Linked DNA regions of Homo sapiens: region 2 is reported to be linked to region 1. Evidence: microRNA targets listed by miRTarBase, many of them from high-throughput screens and not tested one by one. Region 1 holds a microRNA gene; the other region holds the end of a gene's coding sequence.

Evidence for each region. The annotated mature microRNA hsa-miR-3144-5p reads AGGGGACCAAAGAGAUAUAUAG and lies in region 1 at 4,861-4,882, shown strand. An mRNA with a match to its seed (bases 2 to 7 or 8) in the 3' UTR can be bound and repressed. Matches are read on the target gene's strand: a 7mer-m8 pairs with bases 2 to 8, a 7mer-A1 pairs with bases 2 to 7 and ends in A, and an 8mer does both.
Region 2: miRTarBase lists CFAP263 as a target of hsa-miR-3144-5p. Seed matches in the 3' UTR shown: 7mer-m8 at 2,030-2,036 and 7mer-A1 at 3,158-3,164.

Annotation. Positions count from the first base shown.
Region 1 is chr6:120,010,331-120,017,599 of GRCh38, forward strand. MIR3144 (microRNA 3144) reads left to right here and starts at 4,849; the gene lies at 4,849-4,927.
Region 2 is chr16:58,278,722-58,285,721 of GRCh38, forward strand. It overlaps CFAP263 (cilia and flagella associated protein 263), which reads left to right. Exons shown (of 9, transcript NM_014157.4): 9 at 970-5,115. The coding sequence ends at 1,056. It overlaps PRSS54 (serine protease 54), which reads right to left. Exons shown (of 7, transcript NM_001305173.2): 6 at 5,869-6,000; 7 at 1,276-2,036. The coding sequence ends at 1,503. Among named protein-coding and RNA genes, the nearest start is that of PRSS54, 13 kb to the right of the region's middle. RefSeq lists a silencer at 2,284-2,578.

The DNA of each region.
Region 1 (7,269 bases):
TTTAAAATAACAGATGACATTTTATGTTAAAGTTTGTCAATTATTTCAAATTTTTTTGGGGGATTGCATTGAATCTGCAGATTACTTTTTGCAGAATTGATATCTTAACCATATTGAAACTTCCAATCAATCCACCTATTTAGCTTTTAAATCTCATTTATCAAAATTTGTAGTGTTTGGAATATAGGTATTGCACATCATTTGTTACCCTTGTTGTTAAGCATGTTCTTTGGAACCTATTGTAAATCAATTTATTTTAAAATTTTATTCTGCAATTTCTGCTGGCAGTATATATAAAAATACAATGACTTCTGTATATTAATATTGTACCCTGTGGCATTACTTAATTTATGTATGCTTAGTAGTTTTTATACTACACAGGAATTTTACATACAAAATTATGTGCCAATAGACGGTTTCATTTATTTCAGATTTCTAACTTTTATTTTGTCTCTGTTTCTTATTTCAATGGCTTTTACCTACAGCGTGATATTGAGTAGGAGGGGTAAGAATGAGCATCCTTGTTTTTTTACCAATTATTGTGGGAAAGTATTCAATAGTTTACCTTCATATGTGATGCCAGCTGTTTTCTCTAAATGTTCTTTACCAATTTGCTGATAATTTTAAAATTATAAATCGATATTGTTTTATATATAATCTTTGCATCTTTTGAATTAATCATATGGTTTTTCTCCTTTATTCCTTTGTAATAATGATTTGCATTAATAGATTTTTGAATGCTATACCAATCTTGCATTCCTGGCACATCCACTAACTTTTCCTCATTATCTATCTGTTTATATATTGCTGACTTTCATTTGCTTGTATCTTAGTAATAGTTTTCTTGTTTCTATTCATGAGGGACATGAGTACATATTACAATTTTTATATTTTTGTCAAGTTTTGTAGTAGGATTATGCAAGCTTTATAATAAATGGGAATTATATCCTCTCAATTTCTAAAATAATATGTATCAGATTGCTGTTTTTTTTTCTTAAATATCTGATAACATTTACAAGTGAAGTGATCTGTGCCTTGGGTTTTCTTTGTGGAAAGGTTCTTCATATTCTATCTCTTCCTGTCTGTCTGTCTCTCTGTCATTCTTTGTATATATCTATCTACGCATATACACATGTAATTATAAAGGGCTATTCTGATAGACTGTTTTATATTGTGCTACTTTTTCTTGGTAAGTTGTACTTTTCAAGGAATTTGTTCATCTTATCTATGTTGCTAAATACATTGGCATACATTGTGTTATATCACAACGATAACATCTACATTGATAAGCCCTGTTGTATTTCTGATGTTGGTATCTTGTACTTTTTTCCTTTATTAATCAATATCTCAAAATATTTCTTCATTATCTTCAGCTTTTCTATTAGCCAGATTTTGGCTTTGATAATTTTCTTGATTGTTTATTTTATATTTGATTTTCTGCTCACTTATTTATTCTTTCCTTTAAGTAACTTGCACTTACTTTAGTCTTTTTCTTTTTTAGCTTCTTAAGGTGAAACCTTAGATCATTGAGTTCAGAGTTTTCTTGTTTTGAAATACAAGCATTAAAGCTGAAAATTTCCCTTGAAACATTTCTTTAGCTGTATAACACAAGTTTTTATATGTCTATTATTCAGTTTGAAACATTTTCTAATTTCCATTGGGTTTTTTCTTTCACATGTAAATTATTTAGAGGCATATTTAATTTTTCAATATTTTGTGGTTTGTGGATATATTACTATTATTGATTTCTAAATGTAATTACATATTGAATAACCTTACTGTGACTACTGTAACAAATTATGACAAACTCGATATCTTAAAACAACACAAATATGTAACAATACTCTGGGTATCATCCATCTTGGGGGAAAATTCCTCTTCTATGGACTTCCGAAAGTAGAAGACAAGTTATCTGCCTCCAAGATACAGTGGTTAGAGAGACATGGGATAACAATTGTAGGAATTACTGTTCCTAAAGGGAGAAAACGGAAGAAAGGAATAATCAGTTTCAAGAAATTTTGAAATCTAACTAGAAAAATTCCATTATGTTTCAAAGCCTAGGATTAACTCTCTGTCGTTTGAGACTCCATGCCTAAGCCCAAGATTCTGCCCTTGAAGGTGTTCTTCCTTTTTCTGGAAAGAGAGTGCATATTTGCAGCTGAGTAGTTTTATCAGCCTGTTTCCTGTCTGTAAAATTTTGGGAGACCAACAACTTTTTTATTTTGCCTCCATCTCAATCCAAGCTAGTAATGTTTCTGGTGACATAACATTATCATTTAGGTATATGATCTGTCTTTAACATAGCATGTACACCTGGAAGAAATGTGTGTTCCGCAGTTATCTGGTTTAGTGGTCTATAAATATCAATTAGGCCAAAGTTGTTGATTATCTTATTTAGATCATCTGTATCTAATTTGTATCTGCATCTAATATGTATCATTTGTATTTCTAGTTTTAGTTTGTTTTTGTGGGTACATAGTAGGTGTATATATTTATGGATGTTTTATGCAGACATGCAATGTAAAATAATTAAATCACGGACAATGGGGGTATCCATCCCCTCAAGCTTACTATCCTTTGTATTAAGAACAATTCAATTATATCCTTTTAGTTATTTAAAAATGTACAATTATTTCTGACTATAGTCACCCTGTTGTGCTATCAAATAGTAGGTATTATTCTTTCTAACTATTTTTTTACCCATTAACCATCCCCAACACTTGCCCAGCCACCCACTATGCCTCCCAGCCTCTGGCAACCATCCTTCTACTCCCTATGCCCATGAATTCAATTGTTTTGATATTTAATTCCCACACATAAGTGAGAAAATATGATGTTTGTCTTTCTGTGCCTGGCTTATTTCACTTAACACAATGATCTCCGGTTCCATCCATGTTGAAAATAACAGGATCTCATTCTTCTTATGACTGAATAGTACTCGTTGTGTTTATGTACCACATTTTCTTTATCCATTCATCTGTTGAGAGACACTTAGGTTGCTTCCAAATCTTAGCTATTGTAAATACTGCTGCAACAAACATAGGAGTGCAGCTACCTCTTCAATATACTGATTTCCTTTCTTTTGTGTATATACCCAGCAGTGGGATTGCTGGATCATATGGTAGCTCTATTTTTAGTTTCTTGAGGAACCTCCAGACTTTTCTCTGTAGTAGTTATGCAAATTTACATTCCCACTAATAGTGTACAAGGGTTCCCTTTTCTCCACATCCTTGACAAAATTTATTGCCTGTCTTCTGGATATAAGCCATTTTAACTGTGGTGAAATATTTCTCATTGTAGTTTTAATTTGCATTTCTCTGATCAATGATGTTCAGCACCTTTTCATATGCCTGTTTGCCACTTGTATGTGTTTTGAAAAATGTCTATTCAAGGCTTTGCTTATTGATCAGATTATTGGATTTTTTTCTTGTAGAGTTTCTTGAGATCTTTATATATTCCGGTTATTAATCCCTTGTCAGGGGTAGTTTGCAAATATTTTCTTCCATTCTGTGAGTTGACTCACTTTGTTGATTGTATTCTTTGCTGTGCAGAAGCTTTTTAACTTGATGTGATCCCATTTGTCTATTTCTGTTTTGGTTGCCTATGCTTCTGGGACATTGTTCAAGAATTTTTTGCCCATACCAATGTCTTGGAGATTTTTGCCAATGTTTACTGGTAGTTTATACTTTGAAGTTTTAGATTTAAGTCTTTAATCAACTTTGATTTTATTTTTGTACATGGCAAAAGATAGGGGTCTAGTTTTATTCTTCTGCATATGGATATCCAGTTTTCCCAGCACTGTTTATTGAAGAGACTGTCTTTTACCCAGTGTATGTTATTGGCACATTTGTGGTAACTCTCTAGATAAAGAAAAGCTGAGCACATTCATCACCATCAGATCAGTTGTACAAGAAATGATAAAGGGAATTCCATAAGCTGAAAGAAAATTAGCAACATGAAAAAATATGAAAGTATAACAATGACTGGTAAAACTAAGAAGTCAAATTCAAAATACTATAATAATGTAATGGTATATAAACTGCTTTTATTCTTAATATGAATGTTAAAAGACAAAGCTACTAAAAATAATAGCTGGCTATAATAATTTTTAAGGGATACACAATAGAAGAACATATAAATTGTGATGTCAAACATAAGATGTGACGGTAAAAAGTTTTAATGCAATCAAAGTCAAGTTATCAATTTAAATTAGCCTGTTTTAAATATACAATATTTTATGTAAACATCATGCTAACCACAAAACAAAAGCCTATAGTAAATACGCAAAAATAAAAGGTAAGGAATCGAAGCATATCACTAGAGAAAATTACCTAATCCAAAAGGAAGCCATCAAGAAAAAGTAACGAAGGATCTATACAACATTTAGAAAACAATTAAAAAATGACAGTAGTAAATCTATAATTACCTTGAGTGTAAATGGATTAAATTCTCCAATAAAAAGTAGATAAATAGATACAAAAAAGTCCCAACTCTATACTACTTATAAAATTCTCGCCTCACCTTTAATCACACACATAGACTGAAAGTGAAGGAATGAAAAAAGATTTCATGCAAATGGAAACCAAAAGAGCAGAAATATCTATACTAGATAAGGTAGACTACATCAAAAATTGTAAAAGACAAAGAAGGTCACTATATAATAATGAGGTCAACTTATCAAGAGGACATAACAATTCTAAATACAAATGTACTCAACATCACAGCTCCTAAATATATAAAACAAATATTAATATATATGAATGGAGAAAATACAAGGAAACTTCACTATCCAGCTTCCAAAAATGGTTATTCTTCAGAAAGAAAATCTACAGGAAAACATCAGACTGAAACTACACTTTAAGGGGACCAAAGAGATATATAGATATCAGCTACCTATATACCTGTTCGGTCTCTTTAAAGTGTAGTTTAACTGATTTTTTAATGGATATATACATATCAATGGAGACATATATAACTTATGGATATAGAACATTTCATCCAACATTAGCAGAATACATGTTCTTAAGGGCACATGAAACATTCTTTGGGATAGATTGCAGGGTAGGCCACAAAACAGGCCTTAACAAATTTAAAAATATTAAAATTATACTACATATCTTTTTTGACCTCAATGGTATGATACTATAAATAATTTTAAAAATTTCATAAAATTTCCAAATAAATGGAAATTTAAAAGTCGTGACCTTTAACAATGAACGATTCAAAGAGAAAAATAAAAGGGAAATTAAAAAATATCTTGAGACAGTGAACACACAACATGCCAAAACTTATGGGATTCAGCAAAAGGAGTTCTTTTAAGGTAGAAGTTTATATCAATAAATACCTATGTCAGAAAAAGAACATTATTAACAACTTAACATTATTTCTCAAGTTACTAGAAAAATGAGCACACTAAGACCAAAGTCAGTAAAAGAAAGAAAATAATAAAAATCTGAGCAAAAATAAAAAAATAGACTTGAAAACATTAGAAAAGATTGCTGAAACCAAGAGTTGCTATTTTGAAAAAATAAAATCAACAAACCTTTAGCTAGACTAAGAAAAATGAGAAAACTTATGGGCAAGGACTTCATGTCTAAAACACCAAAAGCAATGGCAACAAAAGCCAAAGTTGACAAATGGGATCTATTAAAACTAAAGAGCTTCTGCATAGCAAAAGAAATTGCCGACAGAGCGAACAGGTAACCTACAGAATGGGAGAAAATTTTTGCAATCTACTCATCTGACAAAGGGCTAATATCCAGAATCTATAAAGAACTCAAATTTACAAGAAAAAACAAACAACCCCATCAAAAAGTGGGCAAAGGATATGAACAGACACTTCTCAAAAGAAGACATTTATGCAGCCAACAGACACATGAAAAAATGCTCATCATCACTGGCCATCAGAGAAATGCAAATCAAAACCACAATGAGATACGATCTCATACCAGTTAGAATGGCGATCATTAAAAAGTCAGGAAACAATAGTTGCTGGAGAGGATGTGGAGAAATAGGAACACTTTTACACTGTTGGTGGGACTGTAAACTAGTTCAACCATTGTGGAAGACAGTGTGGCGATTCCTCAGGGATCTAGAACTAGAAATACCATTTGACCCAGCCATCCCATTACTGGGTATATACTCAAAGGACTATAAATCATGCTGCTATAAAGACACATGCACACGTATGTTTATTGTGGCACTACTCACAACAGCAAAGACTTGGAACCAACCCAAATGTCCAACAATGATAGACTGGATTAAGAAAATGTGGCACATATACACTGTGGAATACTATGCAGCCATAAAAAATGATGAGTTCATGTCCTTTGTAGGGACATGGATGAAGCTGGAAACCATCATTCTCAGCAAACTTATCGCAAGGACAAAAAACCAAACACCACATGTTCTCACTCATAGGTGGGAATTGAACAATGAGAACACTTGGACACAGGAAGGGGAACATCACACATTGGGGCCTGTTGTGGGATAGAGGGAGCAGGGAGGGATAGCATTAGGAGATATACCTAATGTAAATGAGGAGTTAATGGGTGCAGCACACCAACATGACACATGTATACATATGTAACAAAGCTGCACGTTGTGCACATGTACCCTAGAACTTAAAGTATAATAAAAATATATATATGTAAAGAAAAATGAGAAAACTTAAAAATCAGAAATGAAGGTGGAGACATTACAATTGATACCACAGAAATACAAAAGATCCTAAGATTGTTAGAAACAATTATATACCAACAAACTGTATAACCTAGAAGTAATGTGTAACTTTCTAGACACAAATATCCTACCAAGACGGAATCATGAAAGAGTAAACCTGAACAGACCAATAATACATAAAGACATTGAATCAACAAAGTTTTCCATCAAAGAAAACCCTAAGGCATGATGGCTTCGTTAATGAACTCTACCAAAAATTGAAAGAAGAATTAATGCCAAGCCTTCTCAAATGCTTCTGATCATTAAAGATGAGGAATGTATTAGTCAATTTTCACGCTGTTGATAAAGACATACCTGAGACTGGGAAGAAAAATAGCTTTAACGGAGTCACAGTTCCAAGTGGCTGGGGAGGCATCAGAATCATAGTGGAAGGCAAAAGGCACTTCTTACATGGCAGCAGCAAGAGAAAATGAGACAGAAGTGAAAGTGGAAATCCCTTGTAAAACCATCAGATCTCGTGAGACTTATTCACTACCATGAGACAAGATGGGAGAAACCACCCCGGTGATTCAACTATCTCCCACCAGT
Region 2 (7,000 bases), not on the chromosome of region 1:
CAGATGTTTGGATATGTAATTTCTGGGAGAAACCTCAGCAGTTGCTTTAACTATTAAACCAAGACGAAGGATGATTTGTTTTTTTTGAAAGTTCCCCCTTTTGCATTGTTAGGGGCAGAGTCTTTTCCATTTTCAGGGAGAAACTCTGTAGTAATAGTGTGTTTTTAGTTGCTTGTTATCTTAATGAATTCTAGAAGTTTCTGAATCCCTCTGCACTGGTAATTTAGTGATTGCTACTTTATACATGGAGAAGTCCATTTTTTTTTTAAATGAGATAGTGATGGATTTTTTAATATCACTCAGGACCTCATTCCATGCATGTACACAGTCGCCATGGGTCTTTCTGCTTTTGAACGAATCCCGCAGACTTTGAATATGGTACCATGTGACAGGAAGCACCCTTGCTCCTGTGAGCTGCGGGAGATAAATGGGCAATGGGAAACCATATGCTGGTGTCAGAAGAAAGACAAGCACCTAGGCTGCCGTGGCCAGGTTGCAAACTGAGGTCATGCAGGACATCATCAGAGTAGCTTAGAAAGCCAGTCAGGTCACTTGGAAAACTGGTACCTTGGCGTTTTCACATCTAGACCCTGGCTCCCATTTCCTGTGTTACTTTGTCCTGCCTCTCCTGCGGCCATTTTGCAGCAGAGAGTAAATTAGGATCCAAATTTGGGCCCCTCAGATCCGAAGCTGAGAAGTAGCAGAATCGTGGCAGGAACATGCAACTTCTCACTTTACTGAACAGAAGAAACATGCTCTATAGAAAAATCTTCCGGTGGGTGCTGCCCCTTTGTGGCCCCTACACAGCAGCATGCATGGAGGACACGCTGCCCCACACAGGGTTGCCTGCACCATCACGGGGCTGGATGAGGGCTGCATTCTCAGTAGCCACAATCAGTTTTCCCCAAGTGACTTTCTCCCCCATCTCCTTTATCATTTTTTTTCTTTTTTTCTTTTTTTTTTTTGCAGATGTCCTTAAAAGGCCATCGTAAGGCTTGGAATCGAATGAAAATAACCAATGAGCAGTTGCAGGCAGATTACCTTGCTGGGAAGTAGCCAGAGGCAGGCCACGGCTTACAGACCACTACATGACCTATAAAAGTAATCAGCTCCTTTCTAGTCACGGGCTCCTCTCACTGTTCCCTGTCTGCCTGGTGTTCCCAACCCCCCACCCAGGCTGCGTATCATCTCCTGGGCCACATCTGCCCATGGGGAGTGTTTTCACAGCCTGGCCCCTGGAACTGTTACCACTGAAAGAACCACAGGGCACTCTAATGGTTTGACACTTGTTAGCCAGCATTTAGTTCACAAGCATAGTGAAAGTGACCTTCCCACACCTGGGAGAGGGATAGAGGAGGGAGAGCCAGCCCAGTGTATGCCATGGGCTTATCCGTGGCAGCCCCAGTGTGCAACTATCAAAAACAGACATCAAAACAGCATGGTGAATGCCTGGCACTCAGCATTCTCAGTTTACTCTTCAGTTTGGTGGGGTAGCTCCTGGACTAGATACTGCTGCAAAAGAAAACAAGCACGAAGGAAACCAAGATGATTTCTTCGGGCTGATACAACCTGTTCTGACCTGCAAAAATCCTACCTTCCCCCACCTCCCCACCGTAATAGTCATAGTATAAGGGTTGTACAGACGCCTCAGGAGACCTGCCTGATTCCTTTACATCCTTCTCCCTAACATCTAGACTATCTCTAGAGCTGTTTCCTAGTCGTGAATGCGTGATGGTCCTTCTTTGTCCCTGCAAGTATGATCCAACATGGCCCAGTTCAGAATCAGAATATGTCTTCTGTGTCATGGTGGCATTTGGTCCATGGTGGGAGAAAGAAATCAACTTTTCCCAGTGGTGGAGTGAGGACAGGGGAGGGCCGGCCCTCTCAGCCTTGGATGTGATCCATTTGCTGTAGTCTTCCACCTTGGTGTACAGAAACAGGCCAGGGCACGTCTCACCACCGAAGTTCAGGACTCCTCTCAGAACCCACAGATCGAACTGCTGTAGCTGGCACATCATTGGGCTTCCTGGGTCCCCCTGTGATAAAAGACAGAAGGCTTCAAGTCTTAGAAAAACTAGTTTTTGTTGTAAATCTATCCTTGTGCAATATACTGTTTGTTCTAGAAATGTTTTACGCTGGTTCTCACTGGAAATGGGGCAAATTATAGGATACAATTTCAAATCTAGGCAGCCACCACCACAAATTCCAACAAGATGACTTTTCCTTTTATTATGCAAATTAGCTGTGGACTTCTGCTGATTGCCTATAGCTTCCTGGTTCATATTTCATTTTCTTGCCCCTTTCCAGTCCTTTGGCCAAACCTTCCCTCTCTTCTGGCTTCTCATTCCTGAAATGTTGGTGTTTGTTTCTGTTTTGTCCTGAAATGCTCACATTTTCCCTTCTCTGCCTTGCTTCAACCCTTAGTGTAAGCCACTTCCTGCCACCTGGCAACTGCTTACCAGCCTGGCTGGCCGTGCTCTGGGTCTTCCCTACTCCCAATGGAGCAGTCCTCTGGGACTTGGGAATTCTGCCACATACACTTTATCTAACTTAAAGTGACGGAGTAGAAGCTTGGCATCATTAGCTAGATATGGGACCCTGGCAAGTGACCAAATCCTCTCTGAGCCAAGGTGGGAACACAGTTAATGCCTGTAACACGTGCTGAGCACAGCACAGTGCCTGGCACACAGCAAACACTCAATAGAATATTAGCTACCATCATCCTGATGTCGCTATAAAGGCCAGCATTTTTCTGAAAAGTTGGGGAAAATGGGAAAAGCAACAAGGCAACTAGTAGGTATCACTTACCTTACCTGCCCAGACCCCACACCCCTAGGTCTCCTCTCAAAGGAATTCCTGCCCCTCCCATGGCCCATCTTGGTCCGAGAAGGGGGTGGTCATCCCCAGGCTAGCCAGCCACTTCTGACCTGTGTGGCCTGCCTGGCTGGAAGGCCCAGGCAATGACATGTTGCTCTCGCAGTTTGGACTGAGACATGGAATGGGGCCGCAATTAACAACAGGAAACAATCTGAACAGACTGAACCACGAGCAGCAGAAAGGCAGAAGAGCAGCCGCTTCAGCCCCTTACCATCCGAGACCTGGGTGTGTGGTCTGTCTTGGTCACTCTCTCTGTCTCTCTTTCTCTCTTTCTTTCTCTGTCCCCAAGGCTGGAGTGCAGTGGTGCAATCTTGGCTCACTGCAACCTCCACCTCTGGGATTCAAGCAATTCTCCCACCTCAGCCTCTCGAGTAGCTGGGGCTACAGCTATGCGCCACCATGCCCAGCTAATTTTTTTTTTTTTTTTTGAGATGGAGTCTTGCTCTGTCCCCCATGCTGGAGTGCAGTGGCATGATCTCGGCTCGCTGCAACCTCCTCCTCCTGGGTTCAAGCGATTCTCCTACCTCAGCCTCCCCAGTAGCTGGGATTACAGGCGCCCACCACCACACCTGGCTAATTTTTATTTTTAGTAGAGATGGGGTTTCACCATGTTGGCCAGGCTGGTCTCGAACTCCTGACCTCATGATCCACCCGCCTCGGCCTCCCCAAGTGTTGGGATTACAGGCGTGAGCCACTGCACCCGGCCTAATTTCTGTATTTTTAGTAGAGATGGGGTTTCACGATGTTGGCCAGGCTGGTCTTAATCTAACTTCAAGTGATCTGCCCGCCTCGCCCTCTCAAAGTGCTGGGATTAGGCATGAACTACCATGCCCAGTGGGGTATTCTCTTTCAATAAAGCTCCTCTTTTCCAAGGAAGCCACACCAGAACAGAGATGAAGACCAGTGGGAAAACATGGGAGCAACTCCGTGGGCAGGCCAGCGGGGAGGCCATGCTGCAAAGCTGCCGTGATTCCCTGGTGATCTCTCAGCAGGCCAAGGCCAGACATGTGAGGAAGGCCTTGAGGACTTCATTCTGTGCCTCTCCTTGGATGGAAGGGGGTGCTTTAGTGTGGCACTCCTGACTTTTCAATTGACTGGTGAAGAGGCCCTTGTGTGCACCTCACTATGTCTGCCTAGGTCATGGGGGCTCCCTGGCCAAGAATGACGTGGTTCCCCCTTTCATCAGTCCGATTCGCAGTTTGTCTTAACTGTAGTGGTATAGCCAGAGCAAGAAAAAGAATGTGATTTAGGACAAATGATTGGATGAGTGATTGGTAGATGTCCTCAGCTATGGCGTGGTTTTGCAGGTCACTGTTCCACCCACCTGGGCACAGCATATACGCTTTTTCTCTTCCCCATAATCCTGTAGGGGCTGCGACTTCTGAAGCACAAGAGGCAGAGGCGAACAGCTCCAGGTGCCCCTCTGGAGCTACCCTACCTCATCTCCCAAGGGAGCGGCCACAGCCCAGAGTGGGGTCTTTCATTTTGTGATCTTTTCCCTTGACATTCAGCAAAAGCCCTGACAGTGGTAGAATAAAGGCAGGATGGGTGAGTGCAGAGTGATTCTGCTTTTGTTGGGTTTCAGGGAAACCCATAGGCAGATTCTGAACCTGGTGGTTGATTCTACATGTGGGAATTGTGGCTTTGAAGACCTCTGGACATGAGAACATATTTCCAAGACAGAGGATTCTATGGGGACGGGTCACCATTAAATGGTGTGCAAGCATAATTCTGTTCAAAAATGAAGGCATGTTTAGAGGTGTGTCACAGTTAAAAACCAACCTGAACTTTGCAGTTAGATTTTAAAAGATGGTCAGTTAGAGTAGAAATAGCTTAGAATATTCCATTGAGTCTAAGATACAGTTAGAAATCAACATCTTTGAAATTAGGGTGTGTCTTTTAATCAGTTGATGTCAGAGTTTAACGGGCAGCATTTTTTTCTTTCTTGGGATTACAAAAAATGATGGTGCATTCTATAATTGGCAGCATCTTAGATCTGAGGAAGTATGATACTTGTTTGACGGAATGGTTGACGGCAGAATTTTGTTAAAAAGCTATATCTTCACTGTATTTTAACACATTATCTAATTTAAGAAATTGTTAAGATCCCCCACCTGGCAGAGGACCCAGTACAAAATAGGCACTCAATAGATGTTACACCAACTTTGGAAGGGCAAACATATTTCTTAATGAGAGGCAGTCCTTCATGTTTTGCAATAAAATGACTTTTAAAAAAAATTGTCTGTATATATGTATTTTTTCCCCTTGCTCTAAAAATCCTGCCTTTCTGGATCCTATGGGGAAAAAAAATTCCCCATCAGGTGTCCTGAAGGTTATTTAGAGGAGAGTGTGTGTTAAGCCTCATAGAAAAGCAATTCTAGAGCAGAGGAGATAAACACTGTCTGGATATCTGGTAGACCTAGGTCCTTGTCTTTGCTGTAACTTTTATTGACTGTGTGACCCTAGTAAGCCACACTTTCTCCAGATTTGGATATGAAGGGGCCTGAACCAGGTGTGTGTGACTTCTACACATTTTTTTTTGAGGCAGTAGGACAGCCACATCCGTACAGCCCTCATCTGGGTGGAGGGCAGGGCTTCTCAGAGAAGAAAAACTCAGTAACTGATAGCATCAGAGGGGAGTCTAGGTTCCCTAGAAGCTGAATACAGCAGCCCCACACTGTAGACCTGCTCAAAGCATATCGGCCTCTGTGGTTTGGACTCAGACTTTCAAATTTTTAGCTAGTTAAAAAGCACCTGTGACTTAGACAAGCTTCATCATGTTACACTGAAAATCGTGACTGGTTAGTTCATTCAGCAGATTTTTATTGAGCGCATACTGTCTGCCAAGTGCTATTCACTCCAGAGACAGCCACTCATCCCAAGCCCTGCCCTCACAGAGCTCCCCATCTAGGGAAGGGGAGTCCTGAGGCTCCCCTGGATGTGACCAAGGCTTACTCTCAACACTTAGCTTCTACTCCATGATGTTCTTACCAAGCAGGCAGTCTTGGTTTCCTCTTTCGTGTGGCTGCCGCATTCTGTCTTCTGGAGTTTGTATAGGGGACACATGTCAAGATCTTTCACGAAGATTTTCCTCAGGACACTCATCGTCATGTGATTTCCTGTCTGGACCATGCAACAGAGAGCCCAGGGATTATTAACGAGAAGGCAGTCCCCTATGTCAACACAACTCCCACTCATATAGCCAAACGAGAGTGAGAATTTTTTTTTTTTTTTGAGTTGGAGTCTTGTTCTGTCACGCAGGCTGGAGTACAGTGGTGTGATCTTGGCTCACTGCAACTTCTGCCTTTCGGGTTCAAGCAATTCTCCTGCCTCAGCTTCCGGAGTAGCTGGGATTATAGGCATGCACCACAACGCCCAGCTAATTTTGGTATTTTTAATAGAGATGGAGTTTCACCATGTTGGTCAGGCTGGTCTCGAACTCCTGACCTCAAGTGATCCACCTGCCTTGGCTTCCCTAAGTGCTGGGATTACAGGCATGAGCCGCTGTGCCCTGCCAGGAATGTTCTTATAAATCCCTTTTTTTCATAGAAATAAGAACCTGTGACTGAGTTTTTACTGAAAACTACCTCCACTTTGAACTTGAATGTGCAAACAGGCAGAGAACACCCTTCCTCCTCTTCTAGAGAGTATCCATTTCCTTGTTTCTTTCTTTCCCCAAAGTGAAAGAAAACAACGATGGCTTAGACAAGAGGACAATCAGCCGTAGTTCGGGGACTAACATCCCCTCACCTCTCTGTACACTTGTATTCATTCCAGGGTGTCCACTGCCTCTGTACTTCCAGTTTTGGTGTAGGGCTAGAGGGTAAAGGACCAATGTGATGTAAGAATGGCCACTGGATGGGTGCAGTGGCTCACGCCTGTAATCCCAACACTTTGGAAGGCTGAGGTGGGAGGCTTGCTTGAGCCCAGGAGTTCGATACAAGCCTGGGCAACATAGCAAGACCCCATTTCCACAAAAATAAATTTAAAACAATTAACCAGGCATGGTGACATGTGCCTGTAGTCCCAGGTACTCGGGGCTGAGGCAGGAAGATCACTTGAGCCCAGGAGTTCAAGGCTGCAGTGAGCCGTGATGGCACCACTGCATGGAAAAGACCCTGTC